Linked DNA regions of Homo sapiens: region 1 is linked to region 2. The links come from fine-mapping of genetic effects on gene expression. Tissue or cell type: pancreas. Region 2 holds a variant in brackets; the other region holds the start of a gene. All regions are shown on one strand. Distances are between the middles of the regions.

What was found. PIP is the estimated chance that this variant, and not a neighbour inherited with it, causes the effect.
Region 1: it holds the start of AJAP1, and the variant in region 2 is fine-mapped to the expression of AJAP1 in pancreas (GTEx, PIP 0.90).

The regions. Positions count from the first base shown.
Region 1 is chr1:4,653,098-4,655,775 of GRCh38, reverse strand. It overlaps AJAP1 (adherens junctions associated protein 1), which reads right to left and starts at 1,167. Exons shown (of 6, transcript NM_018836.4): 1 at 322-1,167. The coding sequence starts at 350.
Region 2 is chr1:5,390,083-5,392,760 of GRCh38, reverse strand. No RefSeq gene overlaps it. Among named protein-coding and RNA genes, the nearest start is that of LINC02782, 290 kb to the right of the region's middle. The variant T/C (reference allele first, on the strand shown) is at 1,526.

The DNA of each region.
Region 1 (2,678 bases), 740 kb after region 2:
CAGCCGGCCAGGACACTGCGCTGCTGGCTCCTAGAGCTGCGGGCGCGCCTGGCCGGCCCCACTTCCCGGGTTGCTGGGGCGGGCGCCGCTGCCCCGACCCCGGACGCGCGGAACCCTGGAGACCCGGCCGCTCCCCGCCAGGGCCGCGGTGCTGCTCCAGGCTCCGGGCGGGCGCCCCTTTCCGGCTACCGGTGCACCCCGTTGCCCGCTTGCGGGAAGCGAAGAGGGGTCCCTTGATTTGCAACATAGAGGAAAGCGCCGCTTCCGCCCAGCCTGGCACCCACGCGCCCACACGCACCCGGCGCCGGCCGGGTCGCTCACCTGAGTCCTAAAAGCTGTTGAATCCACATGGTCACGTTTCGGGGAGCGGGGCCTCAGACCTGGCTCGCCCAGGCCATCTGCGCGGCGCCCGCGCCCGCTCGCTTCCGTCCCGCGGCGCCGGTCTCCGGCTCTCGGTCCGCCGCCTCCCGCCGCCCGCCGGCCGCGGGGCGCACAGCGAGTCAGAGCGCGGCCGCGCGGGGCTCCATGCCGGCCGGCGCGCCGCCGCCGTTGGGGCGCATGGCTCAGGCTGGGCGGCCCGCGGGGGCGCACATCCTCCGGCCGGGGCGCGGGGCTCGCGGCCCCCTCCGCCGGCGGCACAGCGAAGGCGGCAGCGAGGCGGGGCGTGTTCCGGCGCTGTCGCGGCGCAGCAAAGGGCTGGGGAGCCGCGGCTTCGCCCTCCGGGGCGGCGAGGAGGGAGGCCGGCGGCGCTGCCGCTCACGGTGCGTGTCTCCCGGCGCGCGGCTCTTGCCTCCAGCCGGAGCTCCGCGCCGATGGGGCGGCGCTGCTTAGGGTTTGGGGTGACGCGACGCGGACGGACGCGAGTCCCCTCCGCGCTGCCGGGTCGGGGGGCTCTGCCAGAGGCTCCGCCGCCGATCGGCGCCACTCAAGTTGCCCGGGGGCTCCGTCTGAGCGCTCGCTCTGCAGACGGCCGCGGCCCGGAGACTGGCAGGAGGCGGGCACGAGAGGCGCGCGGGGCGAGGGCGCCGTGGAGCGCGGGGCGTGGGGACGCGCGGCGGCGGCGCCGCGCGGAGGAGGCGCGCGGGGATCCCGGGGCCCCGCCGCCCGCGCCCACCGCGCCCGCCGCAGAGCCGCCCGCGCTGCTCAGCCGCCTCCCTCCTCGCGTCTGCCTCTCCGCGCGCTCGCCCCCGCCTCCCGGAGCCGGTCCCAACTCCGCCCGCCCGGCCCGGCTCACGTCACCCGCCTTCCCCGCCCCTCGAACGGGAGCTCGAGCCCCTGGCCTGGCCCCGGCTCCTGCTCGCCGCCCCACCTTGCGGGGGCCGGGGTCGCCGCGGGTGGTGGGGGGCGCTGTGCCCAGCAGGGGCGACAGCGCAGGCGGGGCCTCCTGCAGCCCCCTTCCCCATCCCCGGTCGCGTCCCGGTCCCCACCTTGCGAAAGGCTCGAGAGAGGCCGCAGGCTAGGATTGGACCGCCGGGCGCCGCCGGATGGTGTTGCCAGGGTAACCGGATGGCACGCGAAGCCGTTCGAGGTTCCGACCCGGTTACGGGGGCGCCCAGTGGACCCGGAGAGCTACTTTGGGGAGGGGGCGGCCCCGAAGAAGGACTGGGTGGGGGCGCATGGAGCGGGGGCTGCGCGAAAAGTTTCCTGGGGCGGAGCTGAGCCACGCGGGCCGCGCAGGAGCGTCTGTCCGAGGGTCGCCTACGAGGGACTCCTCTGCTCGGCTGCGCGGGCTTCTGCGTTGATGAAGTCACCGCGTTCCGGGTCGGAGCTTCGGCGCTTCTGCCCCGAACCCAGCGAAGCCCGGTCCTATGCCCCCAATTACCCAACGGTCCCTCATCGCCCAGCGCAGCTGCTGCCTGGCCAGGCCCTTGCTCCGGAGGAGTCACTGGAAAGTTCCAGGGAATCTGGGCCTCCCGGACTCTCCACCGGCGTTTCACTGCTCCCTTCCCATGCCAGGACTCCTCTGTGCCTACCTGGTTAGTCTGTATTTGCAAAAAACAAACAAAAACAACAACAAAAAACAAATGGGGGGCACTTAAAGGAGGACAGACGCTGGGCGGGGACCTTTCACTGAGAGAAGTGACATGGGGCGGAATCCTCTGCAGACCCGCTGACGCCTTGAGAAACCACGGCAAAACCCTGCTTTTAATCCTCCACAGGCTGAGGGCAGTGCAGAATCCGGGCCTTGGAAAGGACACTGGTGCCACCCTTCACTGGGGAAAGGTGCAAGGGGCGGGGGATATACCATGCCGAGCCTTCGCTCTGTGCTCTGTGCAGGTGCTTGACCCAGGCCAGCTCTGGAATCGCCCCAGGCCATGTGAGAGCCGTGGGGGGTGAGAGGGGCGGGAAGCACTTCACAGGTGAGGCCTCCCTGGGAGGGGCAGCCAGTGAGGGGGTGGAAGGGCAGAGCCAGGAGGACCATGGCTTGGGGCTCAGTCTCCCAGGCGAACCATAGCTTGGGGCTTAAGTCCCCCAAGCAGCCCTTTCACCCCCAGGCCTCCAGGATCTTTGCCAACGGTCTTGAGGAGCCAGGCACAGGATTGGACTCTGCCCGGGCAGGAGGATGAAGACAGTGACTTCCCCACCAAGACTCCCGGCAGAGGGCCAGAGGCAGGGAAGTGTGGTGGCAGGAGGGCCAGCCTTGCCGTGGCTGGACCAGGGGCCAGCGCTTGCTAACT
Region 2 (2,678 bases):
TCCTGGGGCCGTGTATGACTGGCCTCTGAGGAGATAAGCACAGAAACCAAGGAAGCGTCTAGAAACTCTTATAGCCATTTGGCAGTGAGTGCCTTTGAATCCAATAATAAAAACTGGAGGTTATCTTTTGTATGACTACTTGTATGCGGACTTGTATTTCACTTATCTAGGGATTAATGTTTTCAAAAATGTTTTAAGAAGTGTTGGTCTGTGGCAGAGAGCTCCTTCCCCTTGGGTAATTGGTGAAGCCGGGCTCTGGAGAACCCTCAGGCCTGGGGTTTGCAGCTTGTCAAAGGAGCATCCGTCCACCCCCATAAGCTTCCAATTCATTCTCTTGCTGGCGTCCCTGAGGCTGAAGACGGGAATGGAACAAGAGGGAGGCGCCAGGTAGGAAGCCAGCATCTTCAGAAAGGCGGGGGCATCTGACATTTTCAGAAAAGGGGGCACATCTTGCATCTTCGGGAAGGTGGGCATATCTGGTGTGGCTTCACAGGAGAGCGTGGGGATTGGGAGACCACATCTGAGAATGCGTTTCCCTCCGCATGAGAACTGGCACTAGCTGGCATTTCTAGAGTACCTACTGTGTGCCAGGGGGTGTTTTAAGGCTCTAGATGCCCCTACGCATCTTATCCTTATGGCAATCCTTTCAGGTACGTAGGATGATTGTTGCTATTTTAAAGAATAAAACACAGATGTACAGACGTGAAGGAACCTGCCAGAAAGATGCACCAGGGCAGAACCAGGGGGAGACTCAGGAGCTGGACTCTGGAGCCCAACTGCTCAGACATCATGAGCCGTGTGTGTGTGTGTGTGTGTGTGTGCGCGCGCACGCTGTGATGCAGAGGTGCATGCATACATGTCTGTGTGCACACACATGTGGGTGTGCGCAGGTGTGTTCATGTATGTACACACATAAGTGTGTGCACATGCGTGTGTCTCTGTATATGCACATATGTAGGTGTATGCACGTATGTGTATATTTGCATTTATGTGTATACAGGCTACGTATACGTGAGTATGCATGTGTGCCCCTGTGCACTCGCGCGTGGGTGTGGGAGTGCATATGTTTGTGCACACTGTGTGCACACTGTATTTGTGAGGGGAATGAACCTGGCCATACAGTAAGAAAGGTGCAGACTCCCTTAACCATGTCCTCTCTGGGCTCCAACCCCATGGGCTCCAGGTCTTTGGCCACAGCCCTCAAGGATGGTAAAGGGGCCCAGGGTGATGGTGCCAATGGTGGGTTCACACCAGGGATGCTTAGACTCCCTTTAAACCCCGGAGACAAAGAGAAGCTGGTTACCCATGCCTGGCCCCCTTGCCTCCTCAACGGAGGCTGAGGATGTCGCCCTCACGCTGCCTCAAGGGGAAGAAGCATGATAACCTAGGTGTCTGGCTCCGTTGCTGAGGATACAGGGAGTCACCATCAGAAGACTGATCGGCTTATCAGGGGCTTGTTCCCTGTGGCCAGCGAAGGAGACACCATTGCACTGATGTGTCTGGCACGCTCTTTATCTCTGCACAA[T/C]GGTCCATTGCTAAATAAAGCTCAGAGCTGTGCATTTCCTAGCAAAGAGGGAGCACCACGGCCAGATTCAATCAGCACTGCTCCCCTGAGCCCCGCGCAGGTGCATGATGAAGCAGCACCCCTCCGCATCCTCGCAGGGAACCCACCCCATCCCATCACATACCCCTCCTCCATGCCTCTGCAGGATCCTGCTTCTCAAAACAGTCCCGCCCCGGACCTAAATTTGAGGCTGCCCAGCCCAGAGGGTGCCCTGCCGTCAAGCGTCTGTCTGTTTGCCTTGAAGGAGAAGAATGGCTTGAAGCCCCTGATCCAGGCGTCTCCCTCCCACCCCAGTACCAGTCAGAACCAACACACGGCTGCGGCGTCCCTGCAAGGAGGCTTCCAGAGTCTTTCCTGCCCAGGGTAGGGAAACATATTTTCTTCCAGCTGTCTACAATTGCCTGAGCCCAGCATAGTCACCCACAGCCAGAAGCGGCACATCAGCTTTCTTCTGCTAATCACAGAATCACTCCTCCAGGGCAGCTGCCGGGCCTCAGGTGCTTGGGGTCGGGGCTGAGCTGAGTCATTCCCATATGTCTGATTCTTGCACATTTAAGACATGAGCAGAGGAACCCACTGCAAATGCTTCACTGAGAGACGGGAGTGAAAGACCTAGCTCCCTGGCTCTGGACCCCAAGTGATCTGGAGTAATTTCAACTTCAGGATCTATCATGTTACCAACCCCCACCAAAATTAGCACACACTCAGAGATCTGCAACTGAGGGTCCAAGACCTATTTTCTGGAGTTGCTGATATACATAAGAGTTGATATCAAACCATTTGTTGAATTGTGCTTTTGGGAAATACAGTCCTGGCTTGCAAAAATTTTGACTTCTGAAAAGAGGGGTTCTTTTCTGATTTTAGATGATTGCCTTTTCCTAGATGCTTAGTAATGTCTGGCTACCCCCACCACACCCAAAGGGTGACAGCTCCAGACAAAGCCTCTGTGTCCAGGAGCCTTCGTCATTCCCTGGGGATTTCTGGAGTTGAGCAGGACATTCGCTGGGACATCGTAGCCAGAGCACAGTGCGGAGGCAGGGCTGTGGCTGTGGGGGATCCTCTAACCCAGCGGGGGGCGGGGCAGGAAATAGGTCTCATCCCACCCCAAGGAGGG